Linked DNA regions of Homo sapiens: all the other regions are linked to region 1. Evidence: fine-mapped expression QTL. A gene starts in region 1. Each other region holds a variant in brackets. All regions are shown on one strand. Distances are from middle to middle.

Region 1 (4,247 bases):
ATCACAAGAGGTTAAGAGACTTGGTCAGGGTCACACAGAAGCAAAGCTAGAACCCAAGTCCTGTAATTAAATGGTGTTAGCTGATTTTTTTCTTTACCATCCTTTTCATCTCACCCTTTGAGATGCTGGCATATAAGACCCTTTACTTCGTAGAAATAAACTTTACAATAGTGATAGTGAGACAGATTGAGCTAGAAAATGTGAAATCAAACTAACCTGCAGGTAGAATCGCATATTTTATGACTAAGGCATCTGCTTAGAGTTTGAAATTTCTCAAATGCCCACTAAGTCAGGGAATGCAGCAGAAATACAAAGGACATGATTCTATTTTTAAAAATGTATAAAAAAAAATTACTCCCTAGCATCGGATCCTTGTGAACAGGACAGGCCTTTCCATTGCTTGTGCTTTTTAATTAAACTATACTTCAAATAGGCCTTCCTGTTTATCAAATATAAACTTTTAAAAATTAAGAGTCCCTTGGTTTAATTTTTGGTTTAATTTTACCTCTGAAAGGTTGCCAATATGCCTTACAAATCTAGGAAATAGAAAATCTAAAATCCCTCTTCCAACAGTGATCTTTTTCCTGGCTATGCTTGTATCCATTTGATTTAAACGAAAATTAAAGGAATTGGGAAAATGTTAGGAGTATATTTTAACATAGGATGAACAGATCAAGTCACAAAGCCAGAGCAAAGGAACATTATGAGACAAGAGCAAAAGTAAAATTAAATAAGAATTCTGGCAAGAATTTTAAAAACTGAAAACTTAGAAAAAAAATCAATCATTACAAATTGTTCTGCTGCTAATACACAATGACTCATGTAAGCATATGGTTTATTATTAACCCAGAAATGTAAAAAAGGCAAGAATTACAAGTGGTCAGAGAAAGTCTCTTCCTGGCTGTGTGATCTTATCAGGTCACTTCTGTTCACTTGAGATAGGACGGGGTAAGAAGAGGGGAGGAGTTTAATAATTTCGGACTCCTCCAGGTTCCATGATCGTATGGAACAGGGCAGTCTGTTCCCTAATGCTGGAGGAGTAGAGCTTGGAGAGATTTGCTGCTGAACTCGCTGCGCTAACCAGACACGTAATCACAGTGGCTTCAGAGGGACTCGCACAACAATTTCCATTAGCTACGGACAAGCATTCCAAACTTTAGCCTTTAGGTTTAATCATTGACACACCTTCCCTGGTCACTGAGTCTCCTCTAGAAACTCAGTATAAACATCCAACGATGTGTTAACAGGGTGTTTTGTAATTTTCTTTTGAAGATTATTCTAGGTGGTGGGCGTCACAGGGTCAATAAAACTATACATTTCTCTCAAAGACTGCAATCCTGATGGCAAAGCTGGAGGAAGCTCCGGGAAACCTGTAATTGTGGGAATCCAAGACAAAAAATCCCCCACAGCTGGGCTGTGGGAAGGGGCCCTACCTAGGAGAAGAAATCAAATCCCCTACAGCTGGGCTGTGCGAAGGGGCACTACCTAGGAGAAGAAATCCCCTACAGCTGGGCTGTGGGAAGGAGCCCTACCTAGGAGAAATCCCCTACAGCTGACAGGTGGGCTGTGGGAAGGGGCCCTACCTAGGAGAAGAAATCAAATCCCCTACAGCTGGGCTGTGCGAAGGGGCACTACCTAGGAGAAGAAATCCCCCACAGCTGGGCTGTGGGAAGGAGCCCTACCTAGGAGAAATCCCCTACAGCTGACAGGTGGGCTGTGGGAAGGGGCCCTACCTAGGAGAAGAAATCAAATCCCTACAGCTGGGCTGTGCGAAGGGGCCCTACCTAGGAGAAGAAATCCCCTACAGCTGGGCTGTGGGAAGGGGCCCTACCTAGGACAAATCCTCTACAGCTGAGAGCTGGGCTGTGGGAAGGGGCCCTGGACAGACCGCTGGGCGCTGCTGCAGGAATCCCCAAACCCAGGCACTGGCTGCAGGGAAAAATCAAGCGGGTGACTGGCGGGGGGGGGGGGGGGGGGTGCAGCGTGGGGCTGGGGGACAGGGAGTGCGGGGGGCGGAGGCTGGGCAGGGGTAGTGCCAACGGACACCTCATGGTGTGGTAGCCTAAACTCAGAGCCTAAACGCAGGACCAGGGCTAGGAGCCCAGGACCAGAAGGCAAAACTTCCTACCTGATTTATGGATGGGAACTTGCAGCCCCTGGAGGGGAATGGCTTCGGTCTGGAGCTCTACGCACTAGTTCTCTGGGAGGACAGAGGGCAGGAAAGGGGTGCAGCCAAAATCAAACTCGGTTCCACTTGGACGAGCAGTGGGGAGATTCGCTGTCTAAACAACTAAGGAGAGTTTTTAAAACCACTTACCAGAATCTAGAGTGGGAATTAAAATCTGCGTGGGCTTCTTCAGATTCCACAGAAATGAGGACTGCCACACCTTCTCCAACTTTTGCAGGCTCCACCCAGGATGTGCGCCTCGCTCCACCCAGGATGTGCGCCTCTCTCCACCCCTAGGCGAAGGCACTAGAATTTCCCAAATTAAGAACGAAGAGGAAGTTTGGACCTTTTCGGCCACCGCTCGCTTCAATATGGCTGCCCCCAGGGAGAGACGAGGCTACCATGAAGGAGCCGAGCGCAGACCCTGAGTCCGTCACCCATGGATCGCAGCGCGGAGTTCAGGAAATGGAAGGCGCAATGTTTGAGCAAAGCGGACCTCAGCCGGAAGGGCAGTGTTGACGAGGATGTGGTAGAGCTTGTGCAGTTTCTGAACATGCGAGATCAGTTTTTCACCACCAGCTCCTGCGCTGGCCGCATCCTACTCCTTGACCGGGTGAGGCCCCTTTGCGCCTGTCCATCGCCTGCCTTCTAGTGCGAAACTTCAGGAGCCCTGTTCCCATCCAGTGACGACCGGATCCAGCATGTCTGTGTTTGCTCCTCTGAGGGGTGGTCTCTGTTTCTTTATATGTGAAATTTAGGGGATTAGATCAGTGCTTCTAAAAGTTTAACGTGGCTATTAATCAGCTGAGCATCTTTTAAAATACAGATCCCGATTCTTTAAGTGTAGGGTAGGGCCTGATACTGTGCATTTCTAACAAGTGCCCAAATGATGTTGAAACTGCTGACCTGGGAACTATCTTGTGTGGCAAAGTTTAGAAAATTTGATTTTATTATATGAATACTAAGGGAATCTAAAGACTTTGTAGCTTGCTAAGGTATTGAATGCCGGAATCCGCTCATCAACAGCTCTGGCAAATCATTGTTACTGCATGCTTGAACATCACCAGTGTTAAGGAGTTTACTGCCTCCTAGTGAGCCCCTCCATTATTACAACTCTAGTAGTTTTACGCAGAGAAAAGTACGATCGTATATAATTTAGGATGGTTAGACTTTTTTTTTTAACTTTATGATGGGTTTACAGGGGTAGTAAATGCATTTTGACTTACATTTTCCACTTATGACGGATTTATTGGGATGTAACCCCATCATAAATCAAGAAGCAGCTGTACAAGCCATACCTCCTTATTTGCAGGTTCAGTTACCCCAGTCAACAGCAGTCTGAAAATATTAAATGAAAATTCCAGAAATAAACAATTAGTAAGTTTTAAATTGCATGCTGTTCTGAGTAGCGTGATAAAATCTTGAGCCAACCAGCTCCTTCCAGAATGGAAGGTGAATCATCCCTTTGTCCAGAATATTCCACTATATATTCTTGCTGCCCTTTAGCTGCTTGGTAGCCTTCTGGGTTATCAGATCGACTGTGGTGGTATCACAGTGCTTGTGTTCAAGTAACTCTTATTTTACTTAATAATGGCCCCAAAGTACGGGAGTAATGATGCTGGCGATTTGGATCTGCCAACAGTAAGTTTTAAAGTGCTTTTTTGAAGTGAAAAGGTGAAAGTTCTTAAGGAAAGACTTAAGGAAAGAAAAAACAGCATATGCTGAGGTTGCTAAGATCTACGGAAAGAATGAATCTTGTCAGTGAAATTGTGAAGTGAAGAAGGAAAAAGAAATTGATCTGAGGTTTCAGGCATCCACTAGGGGGTCTTGGGACATATCCCCTGAGGATAAGGCTGCTTGGGAGTGATACTGCTTAGATTAAAAACCACGGGCTATGTGACCTTAGGAAAGCTATCTCAACTCTGCCCCTTCCTGTTCTATGAACTGAGGATAATAAAAAGTATCTGCTTTATAGGGATTTTGTGTGGAGAAAATAGGATAATTTTTTTTGAAATATTTGGCTTTGTGCCTGGCCCATGCACTGTAAAAGTTGGCTGTGTACTGATTTTATTCGTAGTAT
Region 2 (4,247 bases), 270 kb before region 1:
GTGAGAACATGTGTTATTTGGTTTTCTGGTCCTGCATTAATTCCCCTTGGATAATGACCTCTACTGTCCACAATAGCAAAGACATGGAATCAACTTAGGTGCACATCAACAGAGGATTGGATAAAGAAAATGTGGTACATACACACCATAGAATACTATATGGCCATAAAAAGAACAAAATAATGTCCATTGCAGCAACATGGATGTAGCTGGAGGCCATTATCCTAAGGGAAATAATGCATACCTTTTGAATACCTATTAATAGCCAAGTACTGTGCTAGGCACAGAAGATACAATGGTGAAAAGACACAGTCCCTGACCTCAAGGCATTTATGATCTATATGCACAGGCAGACAAATAAAGAGGCAATTAAGTATAATACATGTTATGATAGTACAGGTTGTTATGGAAGTACATAGGAAGGGTACCCAGGAAAAGTCAATCAAAGATAAGAGCTAAATGACAGTAGATGTTACGAAGGAAAAAGAGGTAGGGGAGAACATTCCAGGCAAAAGGAATCGCATTTTAGAATTAACAACTGAACCATAAAATGCAGTGAAAAAAACTAGGCATTCACATATTTCTTATTTATTCATTTACCAATTTTCATTGAAAAAAATAACACCAGATTATTTTTGGTTTATTATCACTTACATAAAATAGTCAGTACATTTTGACAAATGAATACATGAATGAGGTTATCACATGTTGTGCTGAATGCCTGTTCTGTAGCTTTTCACTGGTCTATCACTTTTGAGAAACAACATACACAATCTCCATTCATGTCTTTTCTTTTCTTGATAAAGTATCGACAAACAAGGGAGAAGTTGAATCCACAAATTGACACCATGGTTATATAGACTCTGCAGCTGACTCACAATACTGGGTTTAACTCTTGTTTTTCAGGATAATGAGAGTGCAAGCTATGCTCTAGAATTATGTTGTTTAATATGAAAGCCACTTACCATGACTATTTAAATTTATATTAAATAAAATTAAACAAATTAAAAACTCAATTTATCAGTCACACTAGCCACATTTTAAGTGCTCTGTAACTTTATGCTATCATATTTAACAACATATAACTTTTTTTTTTTTTTGAGACGGAGTCTTGCTCTGTCGCCCAGGCTGGAGTGCAGTGGCACGATCTCGACTCACTGCAACCTCTGCCTCCCAGGTTGAAGTGATTTTCCTGCCTCGAGTAGCTGGGACTACAGGCGCCAGCCACCACGTCCAGCTAATTTTTTGTGTTTTTAGTAGAGATGCGGTTTCACCGTGTTAGCCAGGATGGTCTCAATCTCCTGACCTCGTGATCTGCCGCCTCGGCCTCCCAAAGTGCTGGGATTACAAGAACATTTTTATCAGTGTAAAAAGTTCTATTGGATACTCCTACTCTAGATCTAGGTTATTATTTCTACTAAACTATTGATAAATATTTCAGGAGACTGTTGAGAAATAATAGTTGCTCAATAAATAGTTATTAATATTTTTAAATTTAGCTTTATTCTCCTTTAATGGCAAAGTCTCATTCTTTAAAGTAGAAACCAACATTTACATAAATCCTCTAACATATTTTTTGTAGCAATCAAGGTAAAAATTTGATTAATGGGCTGACAATCTCCTTCCTGAATCTGTAATACCAGAAAATTTCCCAGATGTTAGTGTAGCATGGCTGCTTAGGCAAGACTGACAAAACAATCTCAAGGTGACAAATTTCAATTTCATGACCCCCTCATGTTACATTGCCCACTTTCTGGTGGAGGCACTAATGAGTAGCATCACTGCCAAGAGTGCTTAAAGCAAAGGGGAGGAGATGCCAAGACTTTGCAGAATCTACTTTGAATAATGAAGAATTAAATATCATTCATCTTAAACTGATTTTCCAGACACACTGCCAAGAAGCAAACAAGTAACTCTATATTTTTGATACCAGAATCTAAAAGAATTTCAAAGGGGGATGGTTGGCACCTGCATCAGAGTTTAACTCATTTTATGACTAGTCCCTCCCCACCCATTAGACTATGCACAACTATTTTAAATGTGCTCACCATACTGGCTTATGTACTTACAGCTAC[ACCAGCT/A]CAACAATATCCAAATGATCATAAGGTAACAAAGTGGAGTTAGAAGATCAGTGATTGCTGAGCACCAGTTTGTTTGCTTATTGATTTACCTCATCCCAGAAATAATTTAAAAATAGTCAAGAGTGGCCCAGCATGGTGCCTCACGCCTGTAATCCCAGCACTTTGGGAGGCCAAGGCAGGAGGATCACGAGGTCAGGAGATCGAGACCATCCTGCTAACACAGTGAAATCCCATCTCTACTAAAAATACAAAAAAATTAGCTGGGGGTGGTGGCATGTGCCTGTAGTCCCAGCTATTTGGGAGGCTGAGGCAGGAGAATCACTTGAACCCAGGAGGCAGAGGCTGCAGTGAGCCCAGATCATGCCACTGCACTCCAGCCTGGGTGACACAGTGAGACTCTGTCTCGAGAAAAAAAAAAAAAAAAAGAGTAACCAGTGAAAGTACTCCAAAATGCCTAATTTTTTGTGACACAGAAGACACATTTAATAAGTAGTGACATATTTGATAAGAACACAATCTAAACAACAAAAAAAATGAGTGGCTATATTTACCTCTGAAATTAGTAACATGTTTTATAAAATGAGAAAACCTAATTCTGGTGCAGATGTATTGATAACCCTCACACACATGCTGTTGAGAGTATAAATTTAGTACAACTGTTAGAATAATTGTTGTACCGAAGTCTTTAAAGTAGTTATGCCTTTGGCACATCATCTTCTCTCCTCAAAATATCATAAATGAATAATCTATGAAATCTGGCAACTCATGTTGAAAAGATATTCTTTGAAGTGTTTACACCCAAATTTGGAAAAACCTAAAATTCGGAAATGATTAAAAACTAAATGCAGAGTCATTAAAATATGTTAACATAAAGTGTTAATAACATGAGAAAATGCTTCATTGCTTAGATTAATGCTTTAATATTTAGAAAAAACAATTACATAATTGTATATTGACATAAGGTCAATGATGTAAAGTATAAGAAATATGTGAAATATTTTAACAATGGTTTCTTCTAAATGATAACATTTATTCCTTCTAATTCTCTTAATTTTTTAAACTTCTACAAGGAAGAAGTATTAATTTACAATTGGCAAAATTAGGTAATCATTCAGAATAATCCATAAAGTGTTGATCAAATCACATTGCATATAATTTCACTAGGCCTACTGAAAGTGTATGGATAAACAGAATTTGATGGGAGTAAATTTTGGTAGAGTAGAGGTAGTAGTTGTGGCTTATATCTCAAAAGTCATTAAGATATAGACAGATGCTTACAATACCACAATCTAAAAGACAGGCAGCAGCAATGTCCTGGAACTTTATCCTCTCACTGATGCAGAGCAGTTTTTGTGAGGAATAGACAGGGCATCATGTGTTGATTACAGAGTATATTTATTATAATGTGTGCTAAAGAGAGCATGGATTTTGAAACAAAAGACTGCACCAAACATTAGTTATATGTAAAATGTTTATAAATTAAAAACTAGCTCCACACATAACAACAACAACAACACCTACTTTGCATGGTGGTTAGGAGGATTAAAGGAGTTTATGTAGTTATCTACCATGATGCCTGATACAAAATGCATTCAGTAAAAGTAGCTACAAGCTTGGTTTCTAAGGGAGTATAGAAATCATTAGTTGCAGAACAGGAAATATTTAGCAATCAGGAATCTACAGTGAAGTTCTAAGAATCACAAAACAGTGATGCAGACTTTGAGATGAGCGATATTCAGAAATCCATGCAGGCAGGCAACACGACAGACTTCAATCAATGAGTATTGTTAGCTAAAATAAAGATGTGAAGTGTCCAACAGAGTTTTAAAAATAATAACTACTTTATAAATATTAAAAATTAAAATCCCAACAACTTTGTAACCAGTAATAGGATTTAAGCTTTAAAAAAATCTACTTTGCTCAAGTGATACAGGTGCTATGAGAAGTGCAAATTTCAGTGGTATTCCATGTTTACTACATACAATATAAGCTCTTTAGCCTGGGATTTATGGCATTATACAGTCTTGTTTAATCTGCCTTTCAATCTTTACTTCTTATAATATCATGTACATACCCTATACTTCAGACAAACAAAACTACTTGCTCCTTGCATATTCCTTCACTCCTTATAAATGCCCTGTACTATTTATTGAGTCTGAAACCAAA
Region 3 (4,247 bases), 28 kb before region 1:
GCTCCAAATAATTAATTTGCCTAGGATTCCATAGCTTGTCAATAACAGTGCTAGGCTTTAAATCCAGTTTCTTTGCCTTCAGAACCCATGCTCTTGACAACTATACCAGAGATGTACTTGTGGCCTTCCTCCCTGCCCATAAGAGAGGTCAGTTTCTTCCAGATCAATATCTGGAGTGAGATAGCCTCTTCAATATTTTGCGTCAATTCCAGTGCCTGCTGGACTAAGGTACGGGCATCTTCTGCTCCAATTTTTACATTATCTGGCTTTGCTAGAGTCAGACAAATGTTGTTTGCACAAGTCTTGTATTTCTCCAGCAATTCCACTCTCAATCCATTTGCAAGATTTTCTCTGTGGTGACATCTGAGGGTGCAAAGTTCCACTTCCTCCTTAATCTATAGCTGTACTGAAAACTGAAACCTGTAGTCTCTAAAATGCATGTGAAAGCAAGGAGCTGAAGGATACTGTGGGGTGGACCTAGACCTCAATTCTAGCTAGTTCAGATGATTTCTGGTTAAAAAAAAAAAAAAAGTGTGTGTGTGTGTGTGTGTGTGTGTGTGTGTGTGCGGCGGGGGACTTGGTTTTCCAGGCAGTGTACCTCCTGTGTCCCAAGTTAGAGGCAGTGATTGAGTTGTGGCTTTTTCCTGCCTACTCTGTAGATAATTTGGTTCAACGAATCAAATGATTGACACTTATGTTAGAAATTCCCAGTGGATTTTGTCACATGGTTTTCTCTTCACTGTCTTGTACTACTGGAGTTTTGTGGGTATTTTTACATGAAGTTGGGAATGAATAAATCAGGGACTGCGATCTGTAGTTATATTTAGCACATTTAATGAACATCCATATCACATAATTTTGGGATCAGTATTAGACTCACTTTTAACGACACACATGGAGTGTCTCCATGTATGACTTAGGGGTCGACATAGACCAAAGTGAACTTACGTTTCTTTCTATAACATTTCCTAGGCCTTGTCCTGGGATGTAGGAAGTTCCCACAGTATAAGCCCTATGGATTAGCAAAATTGTCATATGACAATTTTTAAATGACTTTTTAAAGCACTGTACTAAAAAAATGAAAGCATTAGAAATGATTGAGCATTGAGCTGAGGTGTTTTTCTGTTTGCGAGATACGGTCAAGGAGGCGCAAAGAGGTAGGTCAAAGTGACCTGACAGGTTTTGCTGTTCTTGGAAATCGTGCAGAAAAAGAAAGCTCTTTATACCACAAATTGGGGAAGCCCCTTGGCACACATACAATTTCTTGTCTCAACAGGCGAGTTACGGACATTAAAAAAATGCTAGTTTTTTTTTTCCCCCTTTCAGAAGCATCCTATTTTTTACCTCTATGGTTAAAGCTACTATGGATGGAGACAGCTAACAAATGCATCAAATGTATGAAATGTGTGACTGCAAATCCCAAGCTACACTAAGTGCCCTTCCTCTGTGTCTGTCACCCTTGTGATGGTTAGTTTTGTGTCAACATAGTCAACATGTGCCACTTACATGTTTATACAAAATTATCAGTTGACTTTAAGGAGATGTCCCTCAATAATGCAGGTGGGCCTCATCCAATCAGTTGAAAGCCTTAAGAACAAAAACTAAGGTTTCACAGAGAAAGAATTCTGCAAGACTGCAACAATAGAAACTAGTTGTATTTCTAGCCTGCTGGCCTGCCCTACAGATTTTAACTTGCCAGTCCCCATAATTGCATGAGCAAATTCTTTCAAATGCATCTCTTAATATATTTTATTGCTTGTTTGTCTGGAGAACCCTGTATGACACTCCCTTATATTCTAAAATGTTTTACTTGGGTCTCATCCTTACTCAACTGTAAGCTCAAGGATATGCACTCTGTCTTATATATCTCTGTATTTTCAAAATCCAACAGGGTGCTTTCTCAGACTCTAGGTACTCAATAAATACTTGTTGAACTAATGGATGCACAGAATAATCTGTTAGAGAAGCCAGAGGTACAGTGAGCAAGGAAAGCCAGAGGCCTGGAAAGTTAAATTTATGGTTTTATATCGACAGCCCACAAAAAAGTCAGCTGAATTTGA[A/C]TCTCCTAGTCATGTGACCTTTGGTATGTTGATTCACCTTTTTGGGCTCAGGGTGCTGACCAATTTGGTCTCTAATACATTACATGACTAGGTCACACAAGTCAAAGCAACCAGGAACAGAAATCCAAAAGACTGAGTTAAACAATGTTTGTTTATTATACAGGTTATTCTCTACTTTTCATCAAGAATGGGCACTGAAGACTATGTAGTAGCCCTAAGGCCACAGGCACCAACCAAGTAGTGAATGCAGTTGGCTGAAAGTTGGGACAAGACTAAAACCACAGAGATTTATGCAGAGAACATACCCAGTGCTACATCATAAATATGGTAGTTAATGCACACAGTTTGGCTAGTTTTGGCTTCAAAATTAATTAAACTGTATCAATGTATTTTGAAGTGTTAAGTCATCTGTATGCTTTAGCTCCTTCTATAGATGAGGCAAATATACAAACAGATTAAACTGACTTTTACAGAATAATTATTCTTTTACCTTGTTTACATGGAAAGGAATCCTCCATTTTAGGATGCACATAAAATGCCAGCCTATGTTGATGACATTGCCTTAACACTTTTTTTTTAAGTAATTTTACAGGGTAGTTAACCTGTAAAAGAAACAGTGGATAAACTTGAAAATGCTAATAGCAAAAAACACTTCAGCCATGGCACATACAACCAGAAGCCAATGATATCCTTCAACTATAGAAATTAGCGGTGTTTTCTGTTTATTCCTGAAGCAGGATTCCATATTCAAGCCAGAAATTGTCATTCAACAGAAAAAATCAGGTCAAAACAATCAATCACATAATGTAGCAAGACAAAAGTATGTGCTTATGTGAAGAAAAACAAAAACAACAAATAACCGAACTTTTATTTTCTTGAATATAATATTGATGGCAAGATTGCTAAGAGGTCATCCCTGTATTTAGTTTAGATAAAGGCTTCCAGCATAGAACACTGTTAAGAAGTAACTGTCAGGAGCTATGCAGAAGTGATGAGAGGCAAATAATATAAAAACTAGAAAAGCAGGTTTTAATTTTCTATAGACTTTATTACACATTATTATGTTACGAGACAAATGCAGATAATTCTTAATTTATCAAATTTGTGAGCTTAATTAACAAAAATATTTGACCCTCACCAGAAAAACAGATAACTCTAAATCTACTCTGAAAATCTAATCAATTGCGAAGTATTACCTATTTGGAGACTATGTATTATATCAAAGATAAAGCTACTATTCTCACAGAACATATGGGGTCATTGGCAGCCAACCAATAATGAAGTAAATATTCTAATATTTGGGAAAATACTGAGAAAACTAATAAATTGTCCTGGATATTATTTATTCTTGCCTTTACAAAAGACTTACACATCCAAATGAGATTAGTTTAGAATAGAGGTTTTTAGTTCAGAAAATGTTCAAAGTCCAATACAGTCATGGCTAATCAGAGACTAGAGAACCTTTATAAAGGTAAGTAGGCTTGAAAACCCTTGGAAACTGAGCAGTCTTATTTTGAACTAGCATGTTTTAATCAAAGGTATGGAATTAATCAAATATCAATTAAGAATTACTGGAATGCACACTCATGCCAAATGACAACTAACATGTTATTTCCTACTATGATGACTCTTTGATTTGAGACAGATGGCATAAAAAAATATTGCTAGCTATACAATAAATTTTACTCTTCTGCTTCTGCTCTCTAAAGAAAAATCTTATTTTTTCACATAAGAAGCTCATGGAATCGAATGTTAATTAAAGAAAAGATAGGGTAAGTACAACTGGGGGAAAGACAGTACCTCTAATTACATAGGAAATCCATGAAAGAATTAATCATCATAAGAGAAGAATCATTTTTCCAGTAGCCCCACTACCATGAATGATATTTTCATGAGCCTCGGCCACCTTCTCCAATGGATATTGAGAACCTATCACAGGTTTCAACCAGCCAATTTCCATTCCAGCTTGAAGGGCTGCTGCATATTGCTGAAATTCCTCCTAAGAAAAGGAAAAACAAATTTCTTTTTGTAGTGAACCGTATGATTTAATTTTCAGAAGCATTAAAAACACTTCAGAATCTAAGTGTTATACCATGAAGAGTCTCTTACAAATGTGTGACTTTTGTCAACTTGTCCAGAACTATAGAAAAAGTAGTTATCTACAGGGTAACCATAAATCCCATCTGC

What was found. PIP is the estimated chance that this variant, and not a neighbour inherited with it, causes the effect.
Region 2: its variant is the best candidate, but not a certain one, in a credible set for the expression of CRYZ in uterus (GTEx, PIP 0.89).
Region 3: its variant is the best candidate, but not a certain one, in a credible set for the expression of CRYZ in whole blood (INTERVAL, PIP 0.85).

The regions. Positions count from the first base shown.
Region 1 is chr1:74,730,639-74,734,885 of GRCh38, forward strand. It overlaps CRYZ (crystallin zeta), which reads right to left and starts at 2,412. Exons shown (of 9, transcript NM_001889.4): 1 at 2,318-2,412. It overlaps TYW3 (tRNA-yW synthesizing protein 3 homolog), which reads left to right and starts at 2,514. Exons shown (of 6, transcript NM_138467.3): 1 at 2,514-2,780. The coding sequence starts at 2,607. RefSeq lists enhancers at 1,209-1,498, 2,094-2,804, 2,359-2,648, 3,029-3,128.
Region 2 is chr1:74,458,994-74,463,240 of GRCh38, forward strand. All of the region lies in intron 22 of FPGT-TNNI3K (FPGT-TNNI3K readthrough), which reads left to right. All of the region lies in intron 20 of TNNI3K (TNNI3 interacting kinase), which reads left to right. Among named protein-coding and RNA genes, the nearest start is that of LRRC53, 51 kb to the right of the region's middle. The variant ACCAGCT/A (reference allele first, on the strand shown) is at 2,076.
Region 3 is chr1:74,702,399-74,706,645 of GRCh38, forward strand. It overlaps CRYZ (crystallin zeta), which reads right to left. Exons shown (of 9, transcript NM_001889.4): 9 at 3,088-4,059. The coding sequence ends at 3,898. Among named protein-coding and RNA genes, the nearest start is that of CRYZ, 29 kb to the right of the region's middle. The variant A/C (reference allele first, on the strand shown) is at 2,061.